Homo sapiens: one gene and its partners. The protein of the gene in region 4 purifies or fractionates together with the protein of the main gene of each other region. This does not show direct contact. Each region holds a gene or a part of one and is shown on either strand. Other genes may lie near its edges.

Region 1 (3,500 bases), on a different chromosome or scaffold from region 4:
GACAAGTCATTTAGCATGCCTGGCCTCAATTTCCTGTATGATCTCTAACATCTTTTCTGAAACCATGACTATGGCTGTATATAGGAAATGTTGACTTGACTATCTTACGGAACAGATTCTGCATGGTTTTAGAGGTAAATGTTTGGGAATAATTTGCAGCTAACGTGTATCCCAGGAGTTCACCATTTAGTGCAATTCACAATCAGAATTTCTTTTAACAAATCATATTCATTGAAAATGATAGTCACCATCTGGACAGTTCTGGAGGCTACAGCTAAACTGCTTTGAAGATGTTTTCTCTTCTTAATAATATTCTGTTGTGTTTATCCTTTGCCAAGGTTCTGTGACTCCCCGACCAGTGACCTGGAAATGCGCAATGGCCGGGGTAGAGGCAAACGCATGCGTCCCAACAGTAATACACCTGTCAATGAGACAGCCACAGCCTCTGACAGCAAAGGGACCAGTAACAGCAGCAAAACCCGGGCAGGAGCCAATAGCAAAGGCCGTCGGGGCAGCCAGAATTCTTCAGAGCACCGCCCACCTGCCAGCAGCACTTCTGAGGATGTCAAGGCCAGCCCTTCCTCAGCTAATAAGCGGAAAAACAAACCCCTTTCAGACATGGAGCTGAATTCTAGCTCAGAGGACTCCAAAGGGAGCAAGCGTGTCCGTACTAATTCCATGGGCTCAGCCACTGGCCCCCTTCCTGGGACAAAGGTAGAACCCACTGTTCTGGACAGAAACTGCCCCTCCCCCGTCCTAATTGACTGTCCCCACCCAAACTGCAACAAGAAGTACAAGCACATCAATGGACTTAAGTACCACCAAGCTCATGCCCATACAGATGATGACAGCAAGCCGGAAGCGGATGGGGACAGTGAGTACGGAGAGGAACCTATTCTCCATGCAGATCTTGGGAGCTGCAACGGTGCATCTGTCTCACAAAAAGGTTCCTTGTCCCCTGCCCGCTCAGCTACCCCCAAAGTTCGACTTGTAGAGCCCCATAGCCCTTCTCCTTCAAGCAAATTCAGCACAAAAGGCCTCTGTAAGAAAAAGTTGAGTGGGGAAGGGGACACAGACCTTGGGGCCTTATCCAATGATGGCTCTGATGATGGACCCTCAGTGATGGATGAAACAAGCAATGATGCCTTTGATTCTTTAGAAAGGAAGTGTATGGAAAAAGAAAAATGTAAAAAACCCTCTAGTTTAAAACCTGAAAAGATTCCTTCCAAGAGCCTAAAGTCAGCCCGTCCCATTGCCCCTGCCATCCCCCCACAGCAAATCTACACCTTCCAGACAGCCACCTTCACAGCAGCGAGCCCAGGCTCTTCCTCAGGCTTGACCGCCACAGTGGCACAAGCCATGCCCAACAGTCCCCAACTCAAGCCCATTCAGCCCAAGCCCACTGTTATGGGAGAACCTTTCACAGTCAACCCTGCCTTGACTCCAGCCAAGGACAAGAAAAAGAAAGACAAAAAAAAGAAGGAATCTTCAAAGGAACTTGAAAGTCCTCTGACCCCTGGGAAGGTGTGTCGAGCAGAGGAAGGCAAAAGCCCATTCAGGGAATCTTCAGGAGATGGGATGAAAATGGAGGGGCTCCTAAATGGCTCATCAGACCCCCACCAAAGCCGACTGGCTAGCATCAAGGCTGAAGCCGACAAGATCTACAGTTTCACGGACAATGCCCCCAGCCCTTCCATTGGAGGCAGTAGCCGCCTTGAAAACACTACCCCTACTCAGCCCCTGACTCCCTTACATGTGGTGACCCAGAATGGAGCTGAAGCCAGCTCAGTCAAAACCAACAGCCCTGCATACTCTGACATCTCTGATGCTGGGGAGGATGGGGAGGGCAAGGTAGACAGTGTCAAATCAAAGGACGCCGAACAGTTGGTTAAAGAAGGGGCTAAGAAAACTCTTTTTCCCCCTCAGCCTCAGAGCAAAGACTCACCATATTACCAAGGCTTTGAGAGTTACTATTCTCCAAGTTATGCACAGTCCAGCCCTGGGGCTCTGAACCCCAGCAGCCAGGCAGGAGTGGAGAGCCAGGCCCTGAAGACAAAAAGGGATGAGGAACCTGAGAGCATAGAAGGGAAAGTGAAGAACGATATCTGTGAAGAAAAGAAGCCCGAGCTGAGCAGTTCCAGTCAGCAGCCCTCGGTCATCCAGCAGCGTCCCAATATGTACATGCAGTCCCTGTACTACAACCAGTATGCCTATGTACCCCCCTATGGCTACAGCGACCAGAGTTACCACACCCACCTTCTGAGCACTAACACGGCTTACCGGCAGCAGTACGAAGAACAGCAGAAACGCCAGAGCTTAGAGCAGCAGCAGCGGGGAGTGGACAAGAAGGCAGAGATGGGCCTGAAGGAGCGGGAGGCAGCACTCAAGGAAGAGTGGAAGCAAAAGCCGTCAATTCCACCAACTCTCACCAAGGCCCCCAGCCTGACAGACCTGGTGAAATCAGGACCTGGCAAGGCCAAGGAGCCAGGGGCTGACCCAGCCAAATCAGTCATCATTCCCAAGTTAGATGACTCTTCAAAACTCCCGGGCCAGGCCCCTGAAGGCCTTAAAGTGAAGCTGAGTGATGCCAGCCACCTAAGCAAGGAGGCCTCTGAGGCCAAGACAGGTGCTGAGTGTGGTCGACAGGCAGAGATGGATCCAATACTCTGGTACCGACAGGTAACTGTTGCCCTGGGAGGAAGTGGAAATACCGTATGGTAATCGTCTATCTTCCTCACAAATAAGGGCTGTCCTTATACAGGGGTTCAACGGAATTGAGATTAGCAGGAGAGATGTATAATTTTAAGGATTCTTTACCTTTGTAAACTATTTTAATGTTTTTTATTTTATTTTAGTATTATTATTTTTTTTGAGATGGAGTCTCACTCTGTTGCCCAGGCTAGAGTGCAGTGGTGCAATCTTGGCTCACTACAACCTCCGCCTCCCAGGTTCAAGCAATTCTCCTGCCTCAGCCTCCCGAGTAGCTGAGATTACAGGCACACGCCACCATGCCCAGCTAATTTTTTTTGTATTTTTAGTAGAGATGGGGCTTCACCATCTTGGTCAGGCTGGTCTGGAACTCCTGACCTCAAGTAATCCACCTGCCTCAGCCTCCCAGAGTGCTGGGATTACAGGCATGAGCCACTGCACCCAGCCAATTTTTATTTTATTTTATTTATTTATTTATTTATTTTGAGATGGAGTCTGGCACTGTCACCCAGGCTGGAATGCACTGGCGCAATCTCAGCTCACTGCAACCTCTGCCTCCCAGGTTCACACGATTCTCCTGCCTCAGCCTCCCGAGTAGCTGGGATTACAGGTGCACGCCACCACACCTGGCTAATTTTTTGTATTTTTAGTAGAGACGGGGTTTCACCATGTTAGCCAGGATGGTCTTGATCTCCTGACCTTGTGATCCACCCACCTCGGCCTCCCAAAGTACCTGGATTAAGGCGTGAGCCACTGCGCCCAGTCGTAATTTTTTTTATTTTTATGTTTTT
Region 2 (3,500 bases), on a different chromosome or scaffold from region 4:
GCCTGGAAAATGCAAGCTCAGATGTCAGCTGATCCTGGGTATTCAGAGAAATTGGTCAGGCATGTTACTGAGGGTTTAAATTATGCAAGATATGAACTATAAATCTATCTAATAAATTGGTGTTATCTTAAGATCTCTGTTAATATGTTATTTTTTTTGAATCCTAAGTTGGATTTGCTATATTTTTCATGTTTGGATAAGTACCTTCTATGATTTCTCCTAGATTTCATTATAAATGCAAAATGGGACAGAAAGAATATAGTATTGGTACAGGTTCTACTAAACAGGAAGCAAAACAATTGGCCGCTAAACTTGCATATCTTCAGATATTATCAGAAGAAACCTCAGTGGTACGTATTGCCTTTGGATTAAATTTTTATGTTTTAAAATTCCCTCTGAAGTTGACTTGAGGTTAGACTGTGTTAACATTATGCCAAGACAGCCAGTGATTTAGCAAAATGATTCCTCCATTCTGTGTCGTACCGATGAGCCATGCACCATGGGGCCATGAGGCCTCAGAGGGATAAAATTTCTGGTGGCAACTCAGGGTAGTTTTTAAACTCCAGGCTGGGCTGGGTGTGGTGGCTCACACCTGTAATCCCAGCACTTTGGGAGGCCAAGGCAGGTGGATCTCCTGAGTTCAGGAGTTTTTTTTTTTTTTTTTTTGAGATGGAATCTCGCTCTGTTGCCCAGGCTAGAGTGCAGTGGCACGATCTCGGCTCACTGCAACCTCCGCCTCCCATGTTCAAGCAATTCTCCTGCCTCAGCCTACTGAGTAGCTGGGACTACAAGCGCCTGCTACCGTGCCCGGCTAATTTTTTATTTTTAGTAGAGATGGGGTTTCACTATGTTGGCCAGGCTGGTCTTGAACTCCTGACCTCATGATCCACCCACCTCAGCCTCCTAAAGTGCTGGGGTTTACAGGCTTGAGCCACTGCACCTGGCCGAACTCAGGAGTTTCAGACCACCTGGCCGGGGCAACACAGCAAAACCATGTCGCTACAAAAAAAAAAAAAAATTAGACGGGTGTGGTGGCATGTACCTGTAGTCCTAGCTACTCAGGAGGCTGAGGCGGGAGGATTGCCTGAGCCTGGGAGATGGAGGTTGCAGTGAGCCAAGATTGTGCCACTGCACTTCAACCTAGACAACAGAGCCAGATCCTGTCTGAAAAGAAAGAAACAAACAAAATATCTGCCCTGTGATCCAGAAAAGTAAAATAAAAAATAAAATAAAATCCAGACCAAACATCCAAAAAATGTTATTAATCTTGTAATTGTTTATGGTTGTGGATTTGGTAAATGTGTTGAAATAAATGTGATAGTACATAGAAACTGAGCCTCTGTAGAGAAATAATTAGTTGTATTTAAGCCTACTAAGGGATACTTTTTCTTTCAGAAATCTGACTACCTGTCCTCTGGTTCTTTTGCTACTACGTGTGAGTCCCAAAGCAACTCTTTAGTGACCAGCACACTGTAAGTGTAGACAAACAATTGAGATACTTAACATATTCATATTTCTGTCTGAAAGACAGATTTTTATGTTTAAGGAGAATTTAGGGAAAGAAATAAGTGATAAAAACAGAATTAATAAACTAATAGTTACACCCTTTTCTTCTAGCGCTTCTGAATCATCATCTGAAGGTGACTTCTCAGCAGATACATCAGAGATAAATTCTAACAGTGACAGTTTAAACAGTTCTTCGTTGCTTATGGTATCGTATTAGTCTCGAAGCTTCCTACTTAATCTTATTTTTCTGTGCGTTTCCTCATTTAAAAATAACTTCCAGTATTCCACCATAATTTTTATATTTTTTATCTTATGCACTCTTACTAAATGATAATACCTCAGTAGACTTTTTTTTTTTTTTTTTTTGAGATGGAGTCTCCCTCTGTTGCCCAGGCTGGAGTGCAGTGGTGAGATCTTGGCTAATTACCACCTCCACCTCCTGGTTCAAGCGATTCTCCTGCCTCAGCCTCCTGAGTAGCTGGGATTACATGCGCGTGTACCACACCTGGCTAATTTTTGTACTTTTAGTAGAGACGGGGTTTCACCATGTTGTTCAGGCTGGTCTCGAACTCCTGACCTCGTGTTCTGCCCACCTCGGCCTCCCCAAGTGCTGGGATTACAGGCATGAGCCACCGCGCCCGGCTCGGCAGCTTTTTGACTTTTTTTAAAATTAAGTTCCATTCCTTACCCTTCCACACGTCACTTCTGTCTTTCCTCACTCATCCTTATATTTTAGTATATTCCTATGATTTTGCTTTTCTCTCCTACCAATGGGATAATATTTAAAGATTCACTAATATAGTTCGTTTCTGTTTTTAAAAATTAGAATTAAACTTAAAAGTAAACTTGAAATCAGATAATTTTTTAGGCTGGTGCAGTGGCACATGCCTGTAGCCTGCAGCACTTGAGAGGCCAAGGTAGGAGGATCGCTTTAGCCCAGGAGTTTGAGACCAGCCTAGGCAACATAGTGAGACCCTCATCGCAAAAACAAACAAACAAACAAAAACCAGACAATTTTTTTGTGCACATAAGCAGGCAATGTTGAACTTAGAGCAAAATCCATGCTTTTGGTGATTAGTGTTACAAGAGTATTCTGTTATAAAGAACTACAAATCAATAAGAAAATGGCAAGCAGCTCAGTAGAAAAGTGTACAAAATGTATAAACAGATATTCAGAGAAGAGATACCCAAATGGGCAACAAATATTAAAAGCTGCTTTACTAGGAATCAGGAAAATTTAAATCAAAACAATTAGATACTATTTTAAACTCATTAGATTGGCAAAAAGTTAAGTCTTACAATACTAAGTGTTGATACAGGGCTTGATGAGAGTACAGACATTGATGGACTAAGAAATTGGTCAGAGAGCCATCTAGATATACAGGAGGAAGGAAAACGGGAAAGGAAGATGACTGATTTAGTCATCTGAAACTATTTCTCATTTTCTTTTGTTATAGAATGGTCTCAGAAATAATCAAAGGAAGGCAAAAAGGTGAGTATCATTATGCATTGAACATATTTTGATCTGAAGTTTTATTTCAGACTTATTTATTGTTCTTAATACTTGTAGAGTATTGTACACCCTTATTTGAGCAGAGTTTCAGAAGCAGAAAGCTTGAAATCTATAAACAAATAATTTTAGATGTGTCGAGAAATCTTTGACTATGTGCACATGCTACACTGTAAACATAAAGCACTTTGGGGGTATCGCTAGAGTAATTAGGTTAAGGGCATTATTTTGTACAAGACTGGCAAGGAATTGGGCTGTTTTCACTGTAGAAGTGTTTTCAAGAGAAGTGTATTATTTTGCAGACAAGTAAGGTTAAAATAGCATAAAAACTTGGATTAAAAAAAGGTCAAATGCTATGTCAATTAACTGAAGAGAAAGGCAAAGATGTAAATATAGTCAGAAATGACAGTAAGATGGCAGTAGGAGCCATTATGAGCCACCAGTATATTCTGAGCAGTAGATAGATGTATTGAAGAAACATGGT
Region 3 (3,500 bases), about 33 Mb from region 4:
TGCAGTGAGCCGAGATCGCGCCACTGCACTGCAGCCCGGGCTACAACAGAGCGAGACTAGGTCTAAAAAAATAAAAAAAAAAAATTTAGCCGGGCATGGTGGCAGGTGCCTATAATCCCAGCTACTTGGGAGGCTGAGGCAGGAAAATCACTTGAACCCGGCCCTGGGGGTAGACGCAGTGTGGGGAGGCGGACGTTGCAGTAAGCCGAGATCGTGGCACTGCACTCCAGCCGGGATAACGGAGACTCCATCTCAAAAAAATAAAAAATAAAGATGCACATGAGATATTTAAGAGGTAAATCGATAAGATTTGGTGACAGATTGGATGTGCATGTTAAGGATAGAAAATCTAGAAAAGCTCCTTGCTTTCCAAAACAATGTTTTAATCAAATATGTGAATTCACCATCCCTCTTTTTCAGATTCGTGGTGCTCTCAATGCCGTCAGAAGCTTGGTTCCTGATGCTTTAGAAAGGAAGCCGAAAGCTGTTGTTACTCACAGCAGTGGAAACCATGGCCAGGCTCTCACCTATGCTGCCAAATTGGAAGGTACTTGATTTCTCAAGGTACTGGGTAGATCTTCAGAAAGGAGTGGAAAAGTGCCCTTAATTTCAGTGAGAGTGATGATAGCTGTGGGAAGTAACTTTCCAAAGAAATCTCTATCTGATTGCAAGCAATATGAACATAAGTTTTTTTTTTGTTTGTTTTGTTTTTTTGAAGACAGAATCTTGCTGTCACCCAGGCTGGAGAGCGGTGACGCGATCTCGGCTCACTGTAACCTCCACCTGCCGGGTTCAAGCGATTCTCCTGCCTCAGCCTCCTGAGTAGCTGGGACTACAGGTGCGCACCACCACGCCTGGCTAATTTTTTCTATTTTACAAATACAAAATACTAATTTCACCATGTTGCCCAGGCTGGTCTCGAACTCCTGGGCTCAAGCAATCCACCCGCCTTGGCCTCCCAAAGTCCTAGGATTACAGGCGTGAGCCACCACACCTGGCTGAACATGTTTCTTTCTTTTTTTTTTTTTTTTTTGAGACGGAGTCTTGCACTGTCGCCCAGGCTGGAATGCAGTGGCAGGATCTCGGCTCACTGCAAGCTCCACCTCCCGGGTTCACACCATTGTCCTGCCTCAGCCTGGGACTACAGGAGCCTGCCACCATGCCTGGCTATTTTTTTTTTTTTTTTTTTTTTTTGTATTTTTAGTAAAGACAGGGTTTCACCGTGTTAGCCAGGATGGTCTCAATTTCCTGACCTTGTGATCCGCCTGCCTCAGCCTCCCAAAGTGCTGGGATTACAGGTGTGACCCACCGTGCCTGGCCACATAAGTTTCTATTCTAAATTCTCCTGACTTTTTCCTCTCGTTTTCCTCTCCCAGGAATTCCTGCTTATATTGTGGTGCCCCAGACAGCTCCAGACTGTAAAAAACTTGCAATACAAGCCTACGGAGCGTCAATTGTATACTGTGAACCTAGTGATGAGGTAAGGAGAGCAGTGCTTGGTACCACCTTAACAGCTTTCATTTGACCAATGGCTCTTTCTACCTTACTGGCTGCTCCTTCTCAGCCTCCTTTGTGGTTTCCCCTTTATTTCTGTTAGCATGCTCAACCTTTTCTCTATCTACACTCACAAGATCTCATTAGTCTCATTTCTTAAATTATTACCTATGGTCTAACAACACCAACTCCAACTTCTCTCCCTTTAACAGCCAACTTTTATATAACAGCTACCTAACTTTCCCACTTGATGTCTTAAAAGGCATCTCAAACTACAGCTAAAACCAAACTCCTGATCTTACTTCCCTATATTGCTTCCCTTCCAGTCTTCCTCATCTTAGTAAATGGCAATTTTTATTCTTCTAGTTACTCAAAAAAAAGTTGGAGTCATCTTTTTTTGAAAATTTTTTGTTGTTGTTGTTAAAGATGGACTCTTTCTATGTTGTGGGATCCTTCTGCCTCAGCCTGTTGAGTAGCTAGGACTACAGGTGCATGCCACCACACCTAATTCCTTTATTTTTTGTAGACAGGGTCTCACTGTTGCCCAGGCTGGTCTCAAACTCCTGGATTCAAGCAGTCCTCCCACCTTGGCCTCCCAAAATGCTGGGATCACAGGCATGACCCACTGCACACAGCCAGGAATCCTCTCTGATAACCCTCTCATACCCCACATCCAAATCTCAGTCTGCTTTCAACATATTTCCATAACCCAACTGCTTCTGTGTCTACCGTTAGCACTCTGATTCAAACCAACATCAATTCTCACCTATATTCAATTCAGTAGCCAAACTGGTCTCTCTGCATCCACCCTTGCCACACTACAGGCTTTTTTGAGCAACCAGAGGTCTCCATTTAATAAAGTCAGAACTTGTCTCTTCTTTTTTTTTTTTTTTGAGGCGGAGTCTTGCTCTGTCGCCCAAGCTGGAGTGCAGTGGTGCCATCTTGGCTCACTGCAAGCCCCGCCTCCTGGGTTCCAGCGATTCTCTTGCCTCAGCCTCCCGAGTAGCTGGGACTACAGGCGCCTGCCACCATGCCCAGCTAATTTTTTCTATTTTTAGTAGAGACGGGGTTTCACTGTGTTAGCCAGGATGGTCTCGATCTCCTGACCTCGTGATCCACCCACCTCGGCCTCCCAAAGTGCTGGGATTACAGGCGTGAGCCACCACGCCTGGCCAGAACTTGTCTCTTTTCAAGTCTAAATCCTCTGTTGGTTTCCCATCTCATACACGGTGGAAACGAGAGTTCTTGCAATCATCTAATCCCTGGATAAACTCAAACATTCCTATCTTTCTGACCTCATCTCTCATCTTTTTTTTTTTTTTTTTTTTTTTTTAGACAGAATCTCCCCGTCTCCCAGGCTGGAGTGCAGCGGCACAATCTCGGCTCACTGCAACCTCCGCCTCCTGGGTTCAAGCGATTCTTCTGCCTCAGCCTCCCGAGTAGCTGGGACTACAGGCGCGTGCCACCATGCCCAGCTAATTTTTGATTCTTTAGTACAGACAGGGTTTCACCATATTGGCCAGGCTGGTCTCGAACTCCTGACCTCGTGATCTGCCCGCCTTGGCCTCCCAAAGTGCTGGGATTACAAGTGTGAGCCACCGTGCCTGGTCCCTCATCTTCTTTTTATTTATTTTGAGACAGGGTCTCACTCTGTCCAACCCAGGCTGGAGTGCGGTAGTTTCTTCTCAGCTCCCTGCAGCCTCCGCTTCCTGGGTTCAAGAGATTCTCATGCCTCAGCCACCAGAGTAGCTGGGATTACAGGCGCGTGCCACCACATCTGGCTAATTTTTGTATTTTTAGTAGAGACGGGGTTTTGCCGTGTTGGCAAGGCTGGTCTTGAACTCCTGACCTGAAGTGATCTGCCCACCTTGGCCTCCCAGAGTGCTGGGATTATAGGTGTCAGCCACTGCACCCAGCCTTGACCTCATCTTCTATTATTTCTCTTGCCCACTCTGTGCCAGCCATACTAACCTTTTTAGCTGTTCCTCAGAAAGGCCAAGCACTCC
Region 4 (3,309 bases):
GGCTTCACCCTAGACCCTCTAGGGAGGAGGCCCAGCAATTCTGAGTAGCCTCACTCGATCCCAGGTCCTCATCCAGGGCTTCTCACGCTTTCATGTTCCTACAGATCACCTACCATCTTGTTCAAATTGAGATTTCCTCCCTCACTTTCCTGTGAGCTTTTGCTAGGGTCCGCCCCTCCAGGGAATGCCTCCCTCCTCCACCTCTAGATGTTTACATGCTACCTCTACATCCCAGCTCAGATGTTACCAAAAGCCACCAAGCTTATTCCCGCATCTGGAAATATCTTTCCCTCTGAATTCCTGGTGGCACTTGCTCTGAACTTTTCCTACAGCACTGAACCCTTTCTGTCTTGCACTGGAGTTTTTACAGACACATCCTCTCCCTTCCTAAACCGTGAACTTGAGGTCGACATGCAGGTGGCAGGCACCTTCTCACTACCCATGGAGCTCAGCTCAGTGCCTGGCACAATAAGCCTCTGCTGAACGCATGAGCAAGGGAAACGCACCACAGCTGTGGAATTGTTGACGGTGTGCTCAAAGATGAAGGGGGTGTCCGGCAGGTCCACAACCACAGAAGATTCTGAGTGCGTTGAGGAGGTTTCTGTCTCCAGCTCAGGGTTGTCAAGGTCCAGCAGGCCCCTTGTGGCCATCTGGGACTTCGATGGGCATGGGCAGGGGCCGAGCGCCAGGTCCTCATTTTCTGCATTCTTGGCCATTGGGGAGAAGCTGAGTTTGTTCAGCTCCCCCTCCAGCATCCCTGCAAAGAAGCTGCTGTTGGGCTGGGTCACAGCTAATTTGATGGGGTTCAGCAAGGTGGATGAGAAGGCAGAGATGCTGGTCTCATCAGAGCTGCAGTCTGAATCCTCTACTGGCAGCGGCTTCCTGGAGCAAAAGGGGAGACAGGTGAATCAGATGAAGGAGGCCACCCCAGCCCGTTCCACCTGAGGGCAGGCCTTGGGCCTGACTTACCAGCATCCCCAGCCATTTGCAAACAGCTTGGAACAGCCTCATTGCTCTATAGCATTGCATTAGACTCACCAGGGCACTTACTAAAAATGCAGACTTTTAGTCCCTGGTCCCCAGTTAGCATGGGACTAGAGAATCCGCATCTTTAATAAGATCCTGGCTGGGCGCAGTGGCTCACGCCTATAATCCCAGCACTTTGGGAGGCCGAGGCAGGCAGATTCAAGGTCAGGAGTTACAGACCAGCCTGGCCAACATGGTGAAACCCTGTCTCCACTAAAAACACAAAAATTGGCTGAGTGCGGTGGTTGGCACCTGTAATCCTAGCTACTTGGTAGGCTGAGGCAGGAGAATTGCTTGAACCCAGGGGGCAGAAGTTGCAGTGAGCCGAGATCACACCACTGCACTCCAGCCTGGGTGACAGAGTGAAACTCTATCTCAAAAAAAAAAAAAAAAAAAAAAAGCTTAGAAAATCCTGATGCAAGTGTTCTGCAAACCACAATTTAAAAAACATGCTAAAATGGCAAGTCCTCCCTCCAAAGTGGGGTGCAAATGCCCCAGGGAATAACCACAAAGATCTACTGGGGTATGGAAGTAATACATTCAATTTCACTAATGTTTATTTACTATTGTTTAAATTTTAATGGAATTACTAATATTTACTTACATTTTAGTGGCATTTAATAATACCTATTAATATCTAGCACGTAAAATTAACAGAAATACAAATACATATATGGGCCAGGCGCGGTGGCTCACACCTGTAATCTCAGCACTTTGGGAGGCCAAGGTGGGTGTATTACCTGACGTCAGGAGTTCAAGACCAGCCTGGCCAACATAGCGAAACCTTGACTCTACTAAAAATACAAAAAATTAGCTGGGCATGGTGGCGGTTGCCTGTAATTCCAGCTACTTGGAAGGCTGAGGTGGGAGGATCGCTTGAGCCTGGTAGGTGGAGGTTGCAGTGAGCCGAGATCCTGCCACTGCACTCCAGCCTGGGCAACAGAGTGAGACCCTGTCTCAAAAATAAAATAAAACAAATATACATATGTTGGTGTGGATGCTCAAAAACTTATTTCTTCCACTCTGAATTTTTTAAAATTATGAAGTATTTTAGACTTATACAAAAATATCAAGAATATTATATTAAACCTCCATTTACTCCTCATCTACCTTTAGAAATAAAATCTTATCACTATGGGTAAAGCCCCCCAGACACTTCTGTCTCCCACCAAAGTCCCCATCCTTCGACCGACAAGTAATGAGTACAGTAAAGTTTAAATTGTGTATTTATTACTCAATGTGTGTCTTTATAGGTTTCTTACATATTTATGTTATCCCTAGGCAAGATCTATTATTTTTCACGTTTGTAGATGTTGTACAAATAAAAGATATTATTCAGCACATACCCATCTGCAACATGCTTTTTTCACTCAACTTTGTGTTGACATTCATCTATCTTGATACATGTAGCTCTGGTTCAGTCGTTTTTACTGTTTTATGATTTTCCATTACATGGATATTTGTTTTTGTTTTTGTTTTTTGAGACAGGGTCTCCCTCTGCTGCCCAGGCTGGAGTGCAGTGGCACAAACTCCCAGGCTCAAGCCATCCGTCCACCTCCACCTCCTGAGTAGCTGGGACTACAGGTGCACATCACCATGTCTAGCTAATTTTTGTGTTTTTCTGTAGATGCAGGGTTTTGCCATGTTGCCCAGGCTGACTTCGAACTCCTGGGCTCAAGTGATCCTCCCAAAGTGCTTGGATTATAGGTATGAGCCACTGTGCCCGGCCTATATGGATATTTGTATTGTTATGAGATGTTTGCTATTACAAAGAAAAACCTTGTACATGATCCCCACCACTTAACATTTCTTTTTTCTGTTTTTACTCTTTTTTCTTTTTTTTTTTTTTTGAGCTGGAGTCTCGCTCTGTCGCCCAGGCTGGAGTGCACTGGTGTGACTTCGACTCACTGCAACCTCCGCCTCCCTGGCTTAAGCGATTCTCGTGCCTCAGCCTCCCGAGTAGCTGGGATTACAGGCCCACACTGCCACATCTGCCCAATTTTTGTATTTTTAGTAGAGATGGGGTTTTACCATGTTGGTTAGGCTGGTCTCGAACTCCTGACCTCAGATGATTTGCCGGCCTCAGCCTCCCAAAGTGCTGGGATTACAGGCGTGAGCCACTGCCCCCAGCCAAACAAAAAACAATATTTTTTTAACTGATGAAGAACACCAAGCCAAAAAGTTTGGCTTTCAAATCTTTTTTTACCTTTACCCAAAGTAAAATACACTTTCCATGGCAACTTAGTACATGCATATATACGCCTATAACTAAGACAAACATTT
Region 5 (2,198 bases), on a different chromosome or scaffold from region 4:
TGTCTAGATTTCTCAACTCCACTTTATAAAGCTTATCAGTTTTCAGAGAGGAATGTGAATTTTTTTTCTAATGCAAATAAATGGATATGGCAGGAACTACAGCATAAGTGATTATTGTGATTCTGGGTGGACGGATATAATTTACAACATTTAGGGATGTTCTAGGTAGCCTGCTGTAGTTTGACTTCCAGTCACTGTTGTCTTTCACATTATAATTTGTATATTTCTTGTGATAGAAGGGATGATGCAAATATGTAATTAAAGTGTCACCAGATTTCTGTTAAAACCAAGGTTGAAATAAAAAGCCTAACATTGGTAAGCTACATTGTTTTCTCATTTTAGAATGATTCAGAGATTTCAGATAGACATTTTTTAAACTTTAATGCTTAGCTAGAATCTACATTCTGAGGAAAACTCTAAAAAACTTAAAAATTTTTAGGGAATTTTTATTTTTCAAATCATAATTTTAAAATGATAGATACCATTTTGTGATAACAACAATTCAGAAAACAATTTTCTATCCTCTTAGTTGAAAGAATGTAGGTACAGTTTGGATACTTGTACTTTAATTTTAGAGTAAACATCTGCATTATACTCTTATAGATAATAGAATTATTTAGTTAAGAAATTCTTTACAGTAAATGAGATAATGTGTGAAAAAGTATTTTGTAAATGCTGAGGATTCTACAAATGATAGTTGTTATTTTCATGTGTATTTGTAAGATCATGTCCATTTCATGAATATAGGACTTCACATAAAAAAAGACTTTCTCAAGACAACTTTATATTCTAGTATTTTTCTGTTGTAAAAAGTATTAACTATTTACTTTTATTTTGTTATACATTTATTTTAATATCCATGTGTTTATTATAGTAAATTTGAAATGAAATCCTGAAAAACAGAATTTTTTTAAACACAGACCTCACACCAATATTAATTTTTTCTCTACATAATTTAAAACTACATAAATTAAGTACTTAAAATTTATATTGAAGGCCACCAAGAACTTAGGTTGAATCTTAGAAAATTTAAATAACTATTTTTAAAGTTACCCAACTTAATATTTTAATTTTTTAATATTTATCTTCCTTTACTAATTCTTGATAAATAATAGCATTAGACTTGATAAAATAAAAAAGAATTTTAGAGTAGAATTAATATATCAAAAGGGGTATATCAACCAAATTGGTGTCAGATTGTATTCATTCTCTCATCACATAAAGATTTTTCTTTTGATAGGTGATGCTCATATGAACCTTTGGTTTAGAATCTATATATGTACATGTGTATGTATGTAGATAGTATGGTTGTATACACACATATATACCAAACACCATGAATTTTAGCAGTCTGTGATGATCAGCAAAAAAGCACATAAAGTAAAAATTAGTTGACCATGCTAAATTCAATTCTGGAATTTTTTTTTATTTGGGCATTTCTAGAACTTTTTACATTTGAAAGTACATGATGAGTATTAGTAACGATGACTTATGTATAATCAGAATCTTTATGACAATTTAGTTTTACAAGGTCAGAAGAGATGAGTTTGCTAAACCCAGCTGTGATACCTCAGTTGGAAAGGGAATTCAAAGGTATGCTTTGTAGAACAGAAAAGTATAGTTTTTTTTTCATGAACTTTAATCATTTTCTGTTTTTCCTCTATGTGAGTCAGCTACAAAAGTGGTCTAATTTTTACAACAGTAGAACTTCCTCCTTTTCTACTGTAATCTTCCCACTGACTTTACTGCACAGGTATGAAATACTAGTGTATTGGATCTTCAGTAACCTTTTTATTTCCTAGATGATTGAAATATAGGTATTTACTCCATTTAAACCAGGTGATAAGATGATGTAAATACTCAGGGAGGGTATTAACTTGTTACTTTTGCTCGTTTGGGGTGTAAAGTGCCATGACTGAATAATCTTCAATTCATGATTCTAGAGTAAGTTTAATTTGGAAAAAGGGGCTTCACACATGGTGGTGGTTGAACATTGATTCTTTTATACTTAAAAAGATGAAAATGTTTTGTGGACTGATACATTTTATCTTACTGAATATGAATTGTTTATGTATCTCTACTGTCAAATAGCCTTTTTGAAACTCAGGAAAGACAAAGGTTCAATTACACCACTTTTGTCAATAAGCAAACCAGGTATTTTTTTTTTCTCCTGTTGTCTGGATATGGCAATAGATTTT
Region 6 (3,500 bases), on a different chromosome or scaffold from region 4:
AGACACAGGCACAGAATATTCAGGTTTCTACAGCACAGCCTGTTGTACAGCATCTACAACTTCAAGAGTCTCAGCAGCCAACCAGTCAAGCCCAAATTGTGCAAGGTATTACACCACAGACAATCCATGGTGTGCAAGCCAGTGGTCAAAATATATCACAACAGGCTTTGCAAAATCTTCAGTTGCAGCTGAATCCTGGAACCTTTTTAATTCAGGCACAGACAGTGACCCCTTCTGGACAGGTAACTTGGCAAACGTTTCAAGTACAAGGGGTCCAGAACTTGCAGAATTTGCAAATACAGAATACTGCTGCCCAACAAATAACTTTGACGCCTGTTCAAACCCTCACACTTGGTCAAGTTGCGGCAGGTGGAGCCTTCACTTCAACTCCAGTTAGTCTAAGCACTGGTCAGTTGCCAAATCTACAAACAGTTACAGTGAACTCTATAGATTCTGCTGGTATACAGCTACATCCAGGAGAGAATGCTGACAGTCCTGCAGGTGAGTCTTAAGTTATGTCATGCCATAAATAAGTTCAGTGATAATACATAGAGGGAAATTTTTTGCTTTAGGTATTTATCAGCATCAGACTCACATTAGAATTAATGATCAATGTTTGTATGAAAATATGTTTGTATGAAAGTAGACATCAAAGTATCTTCCAAATTATTCTTTGAAAGTTTGTAGTTTTTGAAGTTAGGGATTCATGTTTCTATTATGCCAATTAACATTTATAGTTTTTTCTTAATTTTATATTTGTTTTGACATCTGATTGATATTGTCAGGCATTATAAAATTTTTATTTGGCAGGTAGGGTGTCTTGGTTGGCCTTAGTGTGATGTGAATTAAAATTTTTATGCATTATATTTGGTTGAGGAGTCAGGTTGGTATAGTGAAAACATGGTACAGGGAGTAAATATGCCTCAGCCACTTGCTAGGTGTGTGATTTTGACCAAGTTATTTTTCTTTCGCAAACTCAGTTTCCTTGTTGTGTAAAATGGAGGTGTTGGACTAGGTAACTGTCTAGGTGACCTTCCAGACCAAAAATTCTTTGATTCTGTGATAGTGGGCATTAAACTTAGCTGTGCTAGAAATAGTTGTCAATAGTATGGGTAGACATTTCTGAAGTCTGCTCTTTGAATGTTGTGTAAGAATTAAATAATAAAGTTTAAAAAGAGATAGTGTCATTTTTACCCTATTAATGTTGTCTGTCTAGATAACATTTGATTGAATGTTTTGTTGTGCAGTAAATCCTGAACTTTATTACTTTAATTCTGTTTTGTATTTGGATTTCTGTGGAGATTGTACTACTAACATTCTTTCACCAGGTCAGTGATTCTAAACTCTTAAATTGGGACACTTTAACTGAACTGATTGACATAACTCCCATCACCATTTAAAGATTACCTTTTTTCTTTTGATAAATTTGTGATACATGCTTAGAAAATTGAAATGGTCTTAGAACCTCAGATCCGTATTTGGAAATCCTTTAATTGCATTTAAGCCTTCTGAAGCTGTGATTATTTTTTTTTAGGGGTTGGGATTAGGATTTCTGAAACTGGTTTAGAGCAGTAGTTGTTTTTTTTTTTGTTTTGTTTTGTTTTTTGAGATGGAGTCTCGCTCTGTCACACAGGCTGGAGTGCAGTGGTGTGATCTTGGTTCACTGCAACCTCTGCCTTCTGGGTTCAAGCAATTCTCGTGCCTCAGCCTCTCGAGTAACTGGGATTAGCTCCTGAATAACTGGGATTACAGGTGCACACCACCACATCCGGCTAATTTTTGTATTTTTAGTAAAGATGAGGTTTAGTAAAGATGTTGGCCAGGCTGGTCACAAACTCCTGACCTCAAGTGATCTGCCTGTCTTGGCCTCCCAAAGTGCTGGGATTACAGGTGTGGGCCTCCCAAAGTTCTGGGATTACAGGTGTGGGTCTCCCAAAGTGCTGGGATTACAGGCGTGAGCCACCGCTCTGCTCCTGGCCTAGAACAGTAGTTCTTAAAATGTGATCTGTGGACCATTGGATATCCCTGAGACCCTCTCAGAGGTCCTTCACATCAAGCTGCACTAAGAAATTGTTTGCCTTGTTCTCTGTGTTGACACTTTCAGTGGTGGTGGATAAAACTGCTTGTGTCTTAGCATAAATCAAGGCAGTGACAGCAAACTGTAATAGTTGTTGCTGTATTCTTCATGACCATGCACTTGCAGTTAAAGAAAAATCCCAGTTTCACTCAAGAATGACCTCGATGAACCAGTAAGAAAAGATATTTACTAAATCTTGACCCTTGAGGGCTGCATGTCTTTTAAAAAATAATAGCTTTATTGGGATATAACTCACATACCGTAAAACTCACTCTTTATACAATTCACTGGTTGTAACTATGGTCATAGAGTTGTACAACCATCATCACTATCTAATTTCAGAGCATTTTTATTACCTCAAAAGGAAACCCATACCCTTTAGCAGTCACTCATCATTCACTTCCCCTCAGACCCTGACAACCACTATGCTACTTTCTGTCCCTTCAGATTTGCCAGTTATTTCGTATCAGTGTAATTGTACAATATGTGGCCTTTGGTGTTTGGTTTCTTTCATTTAGCATGATGTTTTCAAGGTTCATCTGTGTCATGGTATGTGTCATTACCTCATTTCTTTATATATGGCTGAATACTGTTCCACTGTATGGATATACCACATTTTATTTATCTACTGGTGGACATTTAGGTTGTTTACACTTTTTGGCTATTATGAATATTGCTGCTGTGAACATTTGTGTAGGTAGTATTTTGTGTGGAAATGTTTTCTTTTGGGTATGTACCTGGGACTGGATTGCTGGGTTATATGGCAATTGGGTTTAACCGGTTTTCCAAAGAGACCATACCGTTTTACATTCTCATCAGCAATGTGTTGAGAGTCCCAATTTCTCTCTAGCGCCACCAACCTTATTATTGCCCATCTTTCTGATTACAGCCATCCTAGTGGGTGTGAAGTGGTATCTTTTTATGGTTTTGGTTTGTAGTTCCTACTGCATATCTTTGTAGTAGTATTTATGATGAAATGGGAAGTATGCCTTAATAAAGCATTTTTGCTGCATATCAAAATAAGAATTGTCTTTAAAAAACCACTTTTTTCCCTCAGTTATGCAGTTCTGTGAGTTGCAAGCTGAACTAGATGCTATTTTCATCAAATACTGTTTTTACTTGAAAGAATGATAAACTGTGGTCTTGAGATTAATGTACTTAAGTGACAGATATTTCCTCAAAAAAAAAAAAAAAATGAAGTGAGCCTGTCATGTGAAGGAAAAAAACTGGAAAGCATTTGCTGCTGCAGATGACAAAATTTGTGCTTTCCAGTGAAAATTAGAATTTTAGAAAACTCAAATCTATTATGAGCTTGATACCTTCTTAATATTTTTCTGATGAGATGGATAGTGATACTAACAAAGCTTTTTTGATACTGTATTTTAATGTAATGTGCTAACACTTGGAAGATCTGTATGATAGT

The links.
Region 1: the proteins of FNDC8 (region 4) and ZNF609 purify together in Homo sapiens (affinity purification with mass spectrometry; one large-scale study listed by BioGRID and IntAct). This does not show direct contact.
Region 2: the proteins of FNDC8 (region 4) and EIF2AK2 purify together in Homo sapiens (affinity purification with mass spectrometry; one large-scale study listed by BioGRID and IntAct). This does not show direct contact.
Region 3: the proteins of FNDC8 (region 4) and SRR purify together in Homo sapiens (affinity purification with mass spectrometry; one large-scale study listed by BioGRID and IntAct). This does not show direct contact.
Region 5: the proteins of FNDC8 (region 4) and KLHL24 purify together in Homo sapiens (affinity purification with mass spectrometry; one large-scale study listed by BioGRID and IntAct). This does not show direct contact.
Region 6: the proteins of FNDC8 (region 4) and SP3 purify together in Homo sapiens (affinity purification with mass spectrometry; one large-scale study listed by BioGRID and IntAct). This does not show direct contact.

The regions. Positions count from the first base shown.
Region 1 is NC_000015.10:64,673,578-64,677,077, forward strand, and holds part of ZNF609 (zinc finger protein 609), read left to right. Parts: intron 1-338; coding exon 339-2,679; intron 2,680-3,500. UniProt on the Homo sapiens protein: Transcription factor, which activates RAG1, and possibly RAG2, transcription. Through the regulation of RAG1/2 expression, may regulate thymocyte maturation.
Region 2 is NC_000002.12:37,136,481-37,139,980, reverse strand, and holds part of EIF2AK2 (interferon-induced, double-stranded RNA-activated protein kinase), read left to right. Parts: intron 1-223; coding exon 224-350; intron 351-1,395; coding exon 1,396-1,472; intron 1,473-1,617; coding exon 1,618-1,711; intron 1,712-2,963; coding exon 2,964-2,998; intron 2,999-3,500.
Region 3 is NC_000017.11:2,317,450-2,320,949, forward strand, and holds part of SRR (serine racemase), read left to right. Parts: intron 1-420; coding exon 421-547; intron 548-1,376; coding exon 1,377-1,480; intron 1,481-3,500. UniProt on the Homo sapiens protein: Catalyzes the synthesis of D-serine from L-serine. D-serine is a key coagonist with glutamate at NMDA receptors. Has dehydratase activity towards both L-serine and D-serine.
Region 4 is NC_000017.11:35,124,615-35,127,923, reverse strand, and holds part of FNDC8 (fibronectin type III domain-containing protein 8), read right to left. Parts: intron 883-3,309; coding exon 507-882; intron 1-506.
Region 5 is NC_000003.12:183,680,623-183,682,820, forward strand, and holds part of KLHL24 (kelch-like protein 24), read left to right. Parts: 3' UTR 1-2,198. UniProt on the Homo sapiens protein: Necessary to maintain the balance between intermediate filament stability and degradation, a process that is essential for skin integrity.
Region 6 is NC_000002.12:173,951,874-173,955,373, reverse strand, and holds part of SP3 (transcription factor Sp3), read left to right. Parts: coding exon 1-501; intron 502-3,500. UniProt on the Homo sapiens protein: Transcriptional factor that can act as an activator or repressor depending on isoform and/or post-translational modifications. Binds to GT and GC boxes promoter elements. Competes with SP1 for the GC-box promoters.